Homo sapiens: one gene and its partners. The protein of the gene in region 1 purifies or fractionates together with the protein of each later gene. This does not show direct contact. Each region holds a gene or a part of one and is shown on either strand. Other genes may lie near its edges.

Region 1 (3,500 bases):
CCATACTGGTTAGGGTAGCCTTTTAACATAGGATGTTTAAGCTGGAACTTTAGAATCCAGAGTCACAGGTAAGTGGCTATAGAGAAAAGCCCAGCACAGAGATATCCTGACATCCAAGTTCAATGTTTTTCCCTGATGCCATGATATTTCTTTGCTGTCAAGCACATCATGATCCATTTAACTCTGAAACATTTATTGTATATTCATTATGTCCCCAACATTGCATTATAATGCTGGGGTGGCTGTTTCACCGAGAAAAAAAGTCATAATTTTTGTCTTGAATAAGATAATCTAGGATACGAGAAACAGAAAATAGAATTGAAAGCCAGGAAGCCCTGTCTTGATCCCAGAAATGCCACTGTGTGATATGGGGAAACTCACTTTCCTTCTTCAAGAGTCACTTTTCTTGTCCTTAAAATAAAGGATTTGGGTTAGAGATCCTCAAAGGCCTCCTATAGCTGGTAGCCTATGGACCTAAATAGAAAGATAAGCACACAGGAGGTGAGAGGAGAACAGCGCTCAGCAGGCAAGGTCCCAGGTGAGCAAGTGCAGAGTGGCAAGTGCTGAGGCGAAGGTGTTCCCAGTGATGAGGGCTACATCACATAATTAGGAAGTTCATTTAAGAAACAGATGCCTCTAACTCCTGTACTCTCCCACCTCCTATATTAAGCACCCTCAACTTCACTAAAACAATGCCTCCACCCCAAGAAACTCATTGCCCCAGACTTTCCTCCCAGGCCAGACCTGCTCAAACAGTGCTTCTCAAACTCTAATGAGCACAAGAATCCCAGGTCCTATGCCCTGAGGTTCTGATTCAGTCAACTCTTCATGCCGGTTGTCCTTAGGCCACTTTTCAGAAACCCTAGAACAGTGGCCTGTGTTCTGGACCTTCAGTGGCTGTTCCAATTAGTAAATGAATCGATTTGCTCTGAGATGCTAATGGCTAGTGTTTTGAAATATCCCCTCAGGGAGCATTTGCAATTTGACAGGGAACAACCAGAAACAGTGAGAATTCAGAAAGTGACAGGCTACCAGGGGCTAGAGTGGGGCGGTTTGAGGACAGAGAGTCCCCTCTGTGTCAGCTCTGATAGCCTTAGCCAGTACTAAATGAGCCTGATGGTGGGGCCCACACATCAGAGGAGCTTGAGCAAGGGTGCTGCAGAGGCAGTGGACAAAGCCACTCAGGGCCATCTGCAGGGAGCAGATGGGTTGAGTCATGTGCTGCTTCAGGTCCAAGTCATTTTGAGGGCGTTTTGAGCAGAGAACATCTTAGTTTCATTACGAGGTTATATCATCCTGTATTCAAGACTGTTGTAATGGGATAATGGCCCCATTTCTACCTACCAAGTACAAAGTCATCCACAACTGTGCCCAAACTTAGATTTCCGGAATGAATTCAGGTCCTCACGTTATTCCACTATCAATGCTTACCCATGTCCTCCATCAGGGAAATTAAAATAAAGACCAAAGGCTAAAAAAGAAAAAAAAAAAAAAAAGGCTGGGCAACCAGCAGCTCCAAGGCTTCCAAGGCTGTTGAAAGCCAGAACAGCAGCCTCCTGAGGGCAAGGAGGGGGCTGAGAGGGGTGCAACTGAGTCAGTGATCCCTAAGCCACCCAGAAAATCCAAGAAGGGATAGGAGCAGCAAGCATGGGACATTTAGGAACCCCTGGGTGATGCTGACACACTCCCTGACTCAGGCCAATTGGGATCCCTGAGAGTAGGTGATCGAAGGTTACTCCAAGCTCAGAAATGCCAGATTTCTACACCTGGCCCCTCAGGTCACCCAGCATCACTCAGGACTCTGAAAAACAGCAGTTCAAGTCTGGCTAAAGCAGCCAACCTCAGTTTGCTCATCTTTAAAGGTGAAGAGCTCCTCATCCTGGAGGTAATCCTACAAAGGATGGATGTGGCTAGAGAAAAGAATGGGGGCCCAGCTAGGAAGGGCCTTGAATGGTTTTCTGGGGAACATGCAATATATCCTAAGAAGTCTTGGGAGGCAAGTGAGCTGGAGGTAAGGCTAGGAAGGAAGCTCCCGTAGGCGTTCAAGCCAGACAGTATGGCAGCCTATGGCAACAGTGAGGAGGAGAGGTGTAGACATTTGAGAAGGAATCATTTAGAAGGCAGAAGCAACAGGATTTGGGACTGAACTAGCTCCTCTCATAGTTTCTTGTGCACCCTTTGTAACTTCTGGCACAATTCTAATTAATAAATGTGTATTCATTTAACATTTGTCTTCCCTGATAGACCGGAAGCTCTATGACAGCAGATCTGGATCTTCGGAAACAAGCACAGGCCTGACACAGAGAAAATGCTCAACTAGTGTTTCCTGAGTGAATGAATGAGATACAGAAAATATAGAAAAGGGAAAAATCAATGGTAGCTCCCAAGACTTTGGCTTGGACAGTGTGGGGGCTTTGCTGACATAAACACACTTGGAGGAGGGCAGTGAGGAAGTCAGGCTAGAAGTCAAGTCCCATCTTGACCTTACTGAGTGGGAAGTCCCTGTAAAACACTAGGCATTTGTATGTTCTGACCTGAAATTCAGAATAGAGGACAGGGCATAAAATATACATATATTTGGGGATCATCAACTTACTAGTGATCACTGAAACCTAACAGAAGATGAGATCAATCAGGAAAAAGAGTTTCAAGTGAGGATAATAAGGGCCAAGTACAGAAGCTTTGGGGAATGCAACATACTAAAGGGTCAAGTAAGAAAGAGCAACTCATGTAGGACAGCAGGAGCCCCCAGACAAAGGAAATTAGAACAGGATAAATTCATGGAAGCCAAAGAGTTCCAAAAAGTGGGAGCAGGTCAGATAAGGACAGAAAACTGTCCATCAGATTTAGCACCAGGGATCCCTGATGTCTTGGGCAGTTCTGCTGGCATGATGAGAGTGAACACCAATCCATAATGGGCTATGAACTGAACATAAAAGGTGTGAAGGAGTAAACCATGTAAACTACTCTTCTAGAAAGCATGGCTGTGGACTGAAGGGAATAGGGTGCTAGTTGGAGAGAAAACAAATGAAGAAGGAGGATTTTTAGGAGAAAAGAGATCCAACCATGTGTTTATCTGCTGATGGAAAGAGTCGATGCAGAGAAAAAGGACAAAGATACAAGAAAGAGGGGAAGTCATTGGTGGGGTAAAGTCCCTGAGAGGACAGAAATGGATGGATGATCTCCAAGGGGTAATCCTTGAAAGGGGAGTGGCACCCCCTCTGCCCTCTGGGACTGCAGAGAAGGAGGCGAGGGTAAACATAGATGGGGGTGACTGTAATAACAGGGGACAAATACAATTGAGGGGCCCAATTGGTGCCTGTATTTCTCTTTCAGTGAGGTGAAAGACAAAAAATGACTATATATCTATAAAGTACACATTTTCATGTAATGTTTTCTATGAAGCTTCCATAACACCAATCCAATTAGGCGACTATAAAATATCCATTGTCCTTGAGATGCTCACATCCTAGTTGAGCAGGCAACACCAAGGTGGGCTG
Region 2 (3,500 bases), about 110 Mb from region 1:
CACTATAAAGCAGAAACTTGTTTACCACTCACTGAAATGCTTGACCTGGTATCTGACACCGAGTAGGTGATAGTCAATAAGTGGTATGGCCCACTATCTTTCTCTTTTTCCTTTTTTTGTTGGGGGTGGGGAGGAGTAAAATGTGGGGGAGGGACCATATCTGAACTCCTTGGAGAAGAGGAAACATGCACACTTTCATAAAACCTGCCTCTCACCCTCATAAGGCTTGATATTTTTTCCTAGGAGGGCATATGGTACCCCTACTCTCACTTGCCCACTTTACCATTACCCTTAAAAACTCTTGGCATAGAGCTGATATTCCTTAGTATAGAATACAAAGCCCTTCTTAATCTAGAGTCTTTATCCAGCTCTTCTAGCGTCAAATCTGGCCATGCAGATAAAAACAAAAACAAAAATCTGATCCCTAAACCATTCAAACATACTTATTTTATTTATTTTATTTTTTGAGACAGAGTCTCACTCTGTTACCTAGGCTGGAGTGCTGTGGCGTGATCTCAGCTCACTGCAACCTCTGCCTTCCAGGTTCAAACGATTCTCCTGCCTCATCCTCCTAAGTAGCTGGGATTACAGGCATGCACCACCACGCCCGGCTAATTTTTGTATTTTCAGTAGAGATGGGGTGTCGCCATGTTGGCCAGGCTGGTCTCGAACTCCTGACCTCAGGCGATCCACCCGCCTTGGCCTCCTAAAGTGCTGGGATTACAGGCATGAGCCACTGTGCCCGGCCTCAGACATATGTTAAATTAAAGCTTAATTTAAATGTGTGGAGAAGCACATTCAACATAAATCAAGAGATTCTAACAAGAAAAATGCTCTTGTACTGTGAAAAAAACTACCTGCCTGGGTTTTATTCAAGTAGTATGCCTACAACCTTTTAAACAAACTAAAATATCTAATGTACAACTTTGGAAAGGAACAAGTAAAAAGGTTTACTTTTGAGGTGCTAATTTTAAAATAATAAAAAGTAATATATCTCTCTGATACAAGCCAGATTTTATCTGTTATACACATAATAAAGAGGAATACATACAGAGAGAGGCATCTTAAAAAGCCATCACTTTCTCCATCTTCAAGAAAATTCCTGTGCGCTTGTGAATTTCTCATTTGCAGATCTGCTGAAATAGTAAGTATGAGTTTATTATATCCTATATTCCAAAAGCTAGTCTCACATGACTACTTCTAGATATATACACTTTACAGATATCCAATTGTTTTTGTTTGTGTCATCTGATACATTTTATAATGTGTACCAGTTTCTCTAGCACATCAAAACCAAATGAATATTCTATCACATTATGAGTTTCCTGTTTTATTTTCAAATTCTTATTGACATTGATGCTTTCTGCTTAATTACATGTGAGCTTGGATTTGGTTTATTCTAATCTAATTAAAGTTAAAGATGGTCTTATGTTATGTGCTATCATTATCTACCCACTCCCACCCACCAAAATAATTAGAAGGCTAATTAAATCAGTATCTAAAATAAGGTATGAGGAAATTTCACAAGGTGAGTTCTGCTTTAGCTTGATGTTTTATGTTCTTATAAGTCAAAATTCACTTCTAACATGGAAATAAAAATAGAATGGGGACTCTCACTTTTGGCATTTTTCATTATTTGATCAATTTATTGGGAAATACCAGAATATTTGATTAGTTCATGCTCAAAACATCCTTTGAAGCAAACTAAATGTTTTTAGAATAGTGATTTTCAAAGTGTGGCCCCCAGGCCAGCAGCATCAGCAAAATCTGGAACTTGTGAGAAATACAAATTCTCAGATCTTCTCCCAGACCTAGTAAATTAGAAACTCTGGAGGTAGGGCCCAGCAATCTGTGTTTGAACAAGCTCTCCAAACTGTAATACACATGAAAGTTTGAGAACCACTGTTTTAGAAATTATCTGTTTATGTTCCATCAGTGTAAAAACAAACATGACCAACTCTACTACAACCAGATTTGACTGCTAATGTTTTTATCTAAGCTACTTAAAATAAAACTTACAGGACATTTTGCTTAGAGATGATTCTCTCAAATTTGTAGGCTCCTGCTCCAAATGTGGTGCGTACTGGATTTCTGGCTTAGACTAAAATAATAATGAAAGCAATTAAGTCATTTGTACTTCTTTAGCTTTTTTCAGTAACAAGTTCTAAAACAAATCATCTCTTTAAACATTTAAATTGAGAAAAAGTAGCAGAAATACTGTATAAAAAATAAAACACATTAACCACAATATATTTTAATTGCACTTCCTAAACATCAGAGCCAGTGCCTTGCAAAGAAACAGATTTCTGGCAGATTTATGTTAGTTTAACTTCCTGACAACGTTTTGTTTTGTTTTTTTTTTTTTTTAAAGGGAGAGAGGGACAAATCATGACATACTACATTAAATACTATACCTTGCAGAAATGAGTTCTAATTCTAGTTGATCAGGAATAATTTATCAGACTGCCAAAACTTTTGGCTAAATACACATTATCTCTATTTATTCTCATATGAAACATTATATTCTTCCCTAAGTATGAGGAATCCATAAATTACAGCCAAACACTCCATACTTTTTACATCTTGTGTATAGTTCTGATCCTCTAGAATGGGGGTTTCTGCATCCCAGTTATGCTCAAATTCACACAGACTTTAGAGAGACACAGAGCTAATCTCCTATCTAATGAGGAATGAATGAGGGCTTCACTCTGAGAGTCAACTTATGCCTTGAGGTAAGTAGCTTTAGGACCTAGAACTTGTTCATGAATTTAAAGAGAAAATTCCTGTGTTTTACTTATTACCAAATTAAGTAGAGGGGACCCAAGGTTCAGGGGAGTGCTAAAAATCACATACCAGCCATACATTAAGCCACTTACTTAGCTACAGTACTTAAAAGGTTTACTTTATTACCTGAGAGGAAGACAGTGCCACAACATAAACTCTGTTGACTGGTAAATTTGAGGAATTCAACTACTGAATTAAAAGCATGGTAGGGTAGTATATGGGCCTTGGTGCTAAAGTGCCCTGGGTTTGAAGCTTAATTCTGTTACTTATTGGCCGTGAAACTGCAACAAGTTACTCTCACCTTCCTCATAATAAAACAGGAATAATACAACCTCATAAAGTTGTTTGAAGATGTGAGAGAATATATCTAGCACAATATAACCTCCAGGGAATAACAGTTATTATCATGTGGTAAACGATGAGATAGGAGACATTACTTCTCTAGGCAAAATACTTCTTCAACAAGTTCTCTTATTAGAGTCATGAGTAAAAGCACTGTAAAAAACTAAAAATTATGTCATATTGCTTTTATCTGATATCCATATGTAATCATATATGGCCACTATTTATGTTCGAAGTATATTAATTATTGTCTCTCATATTTAAAAATTTCATTTTATCAATTTAACCACCATAAAATTTAAAAGACTCAAGAGTTCTGGTTACATAAAAACTAATGGGCTTTAGATTAGGCTTCTAACGGGCAAAGGGAAGGG
Region 3 (2,835 bases), on another chromosome or scaffold:
TATATATATATATATTATATATATATATATACACACACACACACACACACACACACACGTATATGTATATATATGTATATACATGAAAAAAGAAAAAAATGTCTGAGGTCCTGGCCTCCATGGGAGCAGGTGGCCAAATCCAGGACCAGCAAACAGCTCTCTCTGCCTTCACCCCCTCCCTCGGCCCAGCGCCATTCACAGATCCCACCCACCTGGAACTTGAGGTGCTGGCCAGGCGCGGTCACCAGGGTGGAGCAGCTCAGCCACAGCATCACCAGCACGGAGAGGAAGAGGCAGCAGGCCAGGATCCAGCGAGGCAGACCCGAGCGCCTGCCCCGCCCGGCAGGCACCACTCAGCTGCCCAGGCCGGGACCAGGGAGACCCGTACCTCCAGTCCCACCCCCCTCCCACCCCCAAGGTCCTGCCACCCACCGGGACATGCAACTGAGGAAGTCATTGTCCTGTGGCTCTTCAGACTCCACCTTGGCCTTGCTGCTGGTCTTGACTCGGATCTTGGCCTTCCTCACCTTGTCCAGGGGGCCTACAGGGTCTGAGAGATCAGCTGCCACTCAGCGACCACCAGGTCTTTGCTAAGAGGCCACAATAACCATGACCAGGAGGGAGGAGGTCAGGACCTGGGGCATAGAGTCCTGGAATGGAGATCAGAGCCCTGGGAGATGGACCACAGAATGCTGAGACAGGGACCATGGAACCCTGGGAGATGGATCCTAGGAGATGAACCATGCAACCCTGGGGGTGAACTGCAGAATCCTAGGAGATGAACCATGGAACCCTGAGAGATAGACCAAAGAACTCTAGGAGATGGACCCTAGGAGATGACCCTAGAAGATGAACCCATGGAACCCTGGGAGATGGATCCTAGGAGATGACCCTTAGGAGATGAACCCATGGAACCCTGGGAGATGGAACATGGAACCCTGGGAGATGGAACATGGAACCCTGGGAAATGGACCATGGAACCCTGGGAGATGGACTGCAGAACCCTGGGGGATGGGCCACAGAACCCTGGGAGATGAACTGCAGAATCCTAAGAGATGAACCATGGAACCCTGAGAGATGGACCAAAGAACCCTTGGAGATGGACCCTAGGAGATGACCCTAGGAGATGAACCCATGGAACTCTGAGAGATGAACCATGGAACCCTGGGAGATGGGCCACAGAACCCAGGGAGATGGGCCACAGAACCCTGGAAAGTGAACCATGGATCCCTGGGAGGTGGACCACAGAACGCTGGGAGGCGGAACACGGAACCCTGGGAGGTGGCCACGGAACCCGGGAGGTGGGCCACGGAACCCTGAGAGGTGGACCACGGATCCCTGGTAAATAGACCATGGAACCCGGGGAGATGGACCACGGAACCCTGGGAAGTAGACCACGGAACCCTGAGAAGTGGACCATGGAACCCTGGGAGGTGGACCATGGAACCCTGGGAAATAGACCATGGAGACCTGGGGGATGAGCCATGGAACCCAGGACTTGAGAGATGGAGATCCCGATCCTAGAAGGTCTGTTTGCCAGGCCGACTCCTTGTGGCAGTGGGGCCACCCATGGAAGGAACACTGGTCTAGGTTGCACCTTACCCACGTGCACCTCCAGGGCTTCAGGGTGGGAGCCTCGCCAGGTCACCTCCACGCGCTGCAGACGGCCCCCCTGGAAGCCGAGGCTCTCCACTATGGGCTGAGTCTGGGCCAGGAACAAGACAGCACAGAGAGGCTTGTGAGAACAGCACCCCTGGGCCCAGGCAGGCCCTCTGTGACTGCCATGTCCCACGCCCAGCTGATACCCAGTTCCCCTGGGTATCAGGGGTGGGCTTGATGTCAGGGATGTTGTTTTCTGCTTTCATGGGCTCCTCCATTTGCCTTAACCCCATCCTTTAGCTCCAGAAGTAGGAACATGATCCAGACCAAGCCAGTGAATTGCCTGAGAGATGGTCATATGATCCAGCCAGGGCCAATCAGAGTAAATCCCAGCTCAGTTAAAACCCCAGAGGGAGCCGGGGCAGTGGCTCATGCCTGTAATCCCAGCACTTTGGGAGGCCGAGGCAGGTGAAACACCTGAGGTCAGGAGTTCGAGACCAGCCTGGCCAACATGGCGAAACCCCGTCTCCACTAAAAATACAAAAATTAGGTGGGTGTGGTGGTGGCCGCCTGTAATCCCAGCTACTCAGGAGGCTGAAGCAGGAGAATCACTTGAACCTGGGAGGTGGAGGTTGCAGTGAGCTAAGATCATGCCATTGCACTCCATCTTGGGCAACAAGAATGGGAGTCCATCTCAAAACAACAACAACAACAACAAAAAAAAACCACAGCGTTTGTAACCTAGAGCCTCTGGCATCCACCTTACTGCCAAGAAGAAGTAAATGCCTGGGAATGAAGCCACCACAAAAGAAAGCAGAGTCAAGGCATGGAGTGAGACACTGAGCCCCTGGATCCAGCTGTGCCTGAAGCTCGCCCACTGTGGACTTTGCATCTCATGAGCTAAGAGCCAATGCATCCCATCTTCTTACCCTGCCCACCCATCTGCCACTCTGGCGTGGCCCCTGTCAGAGGTCTCACCTGAAACACCACCACTTTCCCATTGTCAGTCTGCAAGTAGTATGTCCAGGTGGAGGAGACAAATCCCTGGGCTGAGTTGACAAGGTCATTGCAGAGGGTGGAAAACAAGTCCAAGAGGGAGAGGGCCCCACTTGGAGCCTCCAGGACCTTTCTCTGGTGAAAAAAGGTCCAAGACACAAAGATGGCACCGAAATAGGGCATTAACCAATGAATGGGAGGGGGCAGGATGTGGTGGCTCACGCCTGTAATCCCAACACT
Region 4 (3,500 bases), on another chromosome or scaffold:
AAAGAAGTCAGCCACAAAAGAATGTGTATGATTCTGTCTACATAGTTTCAAAAATAAGTAAAACCAAACTATATTATTTAGGAATACATACATGGCAATACATTATAAAGCAGGACAGTAATTTCTAGGGAGAGAGAGGGCATTGTCAGGAAGGAAGGGACCATGGGGGGTTTCTGGACAGCTGGTAATATTCTACTCAGTGGTATTTATAAGTATCCACTTTATAATAATTTGCCAAGCTGTCCTTTTATACTATTGGACTTTTCTACATAAGTGTTAACTATTTTATAATAAAAAAGTTAAAGTAATTAGAAAAATATTGAATGCTGACGGTGTCAAATTGTTCCCAGTCCCTAAGGGAGAGCTGTGGTTGAAGAGGTTCTCGGGGACTCAGAAGCAGCAGTCTTTGAGGAAAAGTCCAAGGATCTGCTCTACCCCGGTTACAACCCCCACCCCCACCCCATTCCCTGCTCCCGCAGGACTGGAGCAAAGAACCTCACCTGAGAAACAAGTCGGGAACTAGGCCAGTGCCCTCAGAGCCGGGTTCTAGACCAGTGGGACTCCCGGCGCGGGTGGAAGCACATAGCAGTGACACAGCAGAGAAGGCCACAGAAGAGAAGCAGGAAGGAGCCCAAGACCAGCAGCCTGGAGCCACACAGAGCCAGCTCCTCCTAGGGAGGGGTACAGGGAGAGGAGGAGGAGGACATGTTAATCCAGTCCAAGGGCTATAGAAGGAGCCTCCATGAGGGAGAGGGCTCTCCACATCTAGGGAGCAACTGAAGGGAAAATGTTATTTTCATATAAGCTGACATTTGTCTTTTTTTTTTTTTTTTGAGATGGAGTCTTGCTCTGTCGCCCAGGCTAGAGTGCAGTGGCGCGATCTCAGCTCACTGCAAGCTCCGCCTCCTGGGTTCACGCCATTCTCCTGCCTCAGCCTCCCAAGTAGCTGGGACTACAGGTGCCCGCCACCACGCCTGGCTCATTTTTTGTATTTTTAGTAGAGACGGGGTTTCACCGTGTTAGCCAGGATGGTCTTGATCTCCTGACCTCATGATCCGCCCACCTCGGCCTCCCAAAGTGCTGGGATTACAGGCGTGAAACACCGCGCCTGGCCCTTTTTTTTTTTTTTCTTTTTGAGGCAGGGTCTCACTCTGTAACTCAGGCTGGAGTGCAGTAGTGCAATCTCGGCTCACTGCAACCTCCGCCTCCTGGGCTCCAGCGATCTTCCCACCTCAGCCTCCTGAGTAGCTGGGACCACAGGTGTGTGCCACCACGCCCAGCTAATTTTTTGTGTGTTTTTTTGTAGAGATGGGGTTTCACCATGTTGCCCAGGCTCGAACATTTGTCTTGATGGTTTAAAAACTACTTTCTTGCCCAATTATCAACCTGAAACCCCATCATAACTCCATGAGATAGGAAACTTCATTATGATCCACAGTTTAAAGATGTATAAGTGGCTGGGTGCGGTGGCTCACACCTGTAATCCCAGCACTTTGAGAGGCCGAGGTGGGTGGATCACGAGGTCAGGAGATTGAGACCATCCTGGCTAACACAGTGAAACCCCATCTCTACTAAAAATACAAAAACTTAGCCGGGCATGGTGGCGGGCGCCTGTAGTCCCAGCTACTTGGGAGGCTGAGGCAGGAGAATGGCGTGAACCTGGGAGGCGGAGCTTGCAGTAAGCTGAGATTGCGCCACTGCACTCCCGCCTGGGCGATAGAGCAAGACTCCATCTCAAAAAAAAAAAAAAAAAAAGTGCAAGCAGTGCTAGATCTGGAAACCAGATCTCTGATTCCAAGTCCCAGGTTGTGCTCCTCATGGGGTCTTTTCTTTTTTTCTTTATTTGAGACGGAGTCTCACTCTGTTGCCCAGGCTGGAGTGCAGTGGCATGATCTCAGCTCACTACAACCTCTGCCTCCCAGGTTCCAGAGATTCTCCTGCCTCAGCCTCCTGAGTAGCTGGGATCACAGACGCCCGCCACAACATCCAGCTAATTTTTAAATTTTTAGTAGAGATGGGGTTTCACCATGTTGGCCAGGCTGGTCCTGACCTCAAGTGATCCACCGGCCTTGGCCTCCCAAAGTGCTGGGATTACAGGCGTGAGCCACCGTGCCTCATGGGGTATTTTCAAATGTGAGAGTGGAGTGTGCAGCAGCCTCCTGACTGATGGCCCTCCTCCACTCAGCCATTCTCCACCCAGCACCAGGGAAGCACATCTCTCTCCTCCTTAAAACTCCTCAGTGGCCCCCACGGCCTTCAGCATCAGGTCATAGCCCTCTATCCTGCATTCACAGAGCCTCTCCATCAAATCCCTGTGGTCTCTCTTGCCTTTTCTCCTTCCTAAGCCTCTCAACATGGAGTGCTCCCAAAGGCTGAACACTTTCTTTTTTTTTCCTTCTTGAGACAGGGTCTCACTCTGGCAACCAGGCTGGAGTGCAGTGGCACAATCATGGCTCACTGCAGCCTCAAACTCCTGGGATCAAAGGATCCTCCCACCTCAGCCTCCTGAGTAGCTGGGACTATAGGTGTGTACCACCACACCCTGCTAATTAAAAAAAAAAATGTTTTTTTTAAGAAATGGGGTCGCCAGGCGCAGTGGCTCACACCTGTAATCCCAGCACTTTGGGAGGCTGAGGTGGGTGGATCACGAGGTCAGGAGATTGAGATCATCCTGGCTAACAAGGTGAAACCCTGTCTCTACTAAAAATACAAAAATTAGCCGGGCATGGTGGCAGGCGCCTGTAGTCCCAGCTACTCGGGAGCCTGAGGCAGGAGAATGGCATGAACCTGTGAGGTGGAGCTTGCAGTGAGCCGAGATTGTGCCACTGCACCCCAGCCTGGGTAACAGAGTGAGACTCCGTCTCAAAAAAAAAAAAAAAAAAAAAAGCGAAAAAGAAACGAGGTCTTGCTATGTTCTCCAGGCTGGTCTGGAACTCCTGGCCTCAGGCATTCTCCTTGCTTCGGCCTTCCAAAGTGCTGGGATTACAGATGTGACACCTGGCTGAACACTTTTCAATCTCTAGGCCTGTGCGCATGCTGGTGCCTTTGCCTGGAGTGTACCTCCCCCTCTCCTGAACCTCCTCTACTGCAGTCCCTGTCCAAATCTTCCTCATTCTTCAAGGATCATTCTGACTTGACAGAAGGTGTGGGTTGCAACCCTGGCTCTGCCACTTAACCAGTTGTGTGGCCTGCAGCAATTCACTCCCTTTCTCTAAACCTGTTTCCTCATCTGTAAAATGGGATAATAACACCTACCTCAAAAGGCTATTTTAAGATCAAATGAATTAATGAACCCTGAGAGCACTTTGTGCATTATAAACCACTGTGCACAATGCTCTCTGGTAAATGCCACCTTCTCTGTGATGCACTCTCCATAAATGTTCAAGTTAGGGTTAATGGCTCCTTTCTCTGTGTTTGCATAACACTTTGCTCACATCTCTCTAATAGCAATTAGCCCATTTGCCTCTTATTATAGCTTCTGAACTCCTTTGAAGTAGAGA

The links.
Region 2: the proteins of LRRC52 (region 1) and TMEM59 purify together in Homo sapiens (co-immunoprecipitation; one large-scale study listed by IntAct). This does not show direct contact.
Region 3: the proteins of LRRC52 (region 1) and TMEM59L purify together in Homo sapiens (affinity purification with mass spectrometry; one large-scale study listed by BioGRID and IntAct). This does not show direct contact.
Region 4: the proteins of LRRC52 (region 1) and TMEM219 purify together in Homo sapiens (affinity purification with mass spectrometry; one large-scale study listed by BioGRID and IntAct). This does not show direct contact.

Annotation. Positions count from the first base shown.
Region 1 is NC_000001.11:165,550,500-165,553,999, forward strand, and holds part of LRRC52 (leucine-rich repeat-containing protein 52 precursor), read left to right. Parts: intron 1-3,500. UniProt on the Homo sapiens protein: Auxiliary protein of the large-conductance, voltage and calcium-activated potassium channel (BK alpha).
Region 2 is NC_000001.11:54,039,705-54,043,204, forward strand, and holds part of TMEM59 (transmembrane protein 59 isoform 2 precursor), read right to left. Parts: intron 2,102-3,500; coding exon 2,020-2,101; intron 1,137-2,019; coding exon of another isoform or gene 1,134-1,136; coding exon 1,052-1,133; intron 1-1,051.
Region 3 is NC_000019.10:18,615,870-18,618,704, reverse strand, and holds part of TMEM59L (transmembrane protein 59-like precursor), read right to left. Parts: intron 2,731-2,835; coding exon 2,578-2,730; intron 1,706-2,577; coding exon 1,603-1,705; intron 551-1,602; coding exon 433-550; intron 331-432; coding exon 213-330; intron 1-212. UniProt on the Homo sapiens protein: Modulates the O-glycosylation and complex N-glycosylation steps occurring during the Golgi maturation of APP. Inhibits APP transport to the cell surface and further shedding.
Region 4 is NC_000016.10:29,968,579-29,972,078, reverse strand, and holds part of TMEM219 (insulin-like growth factor-binding protein 3 receptor isoform 1 precursor), read right to left. Parts: intron 672-3,500; coding exon 534-671; 3' UTR 501-533; intron 38-500; exon of another isoform or gene 1-37. UniProt on the Homo sapiens protein: Cell death receptor specific for IGFBP3, may mediate caspase-8-dependent apoptosis upon ligand binding.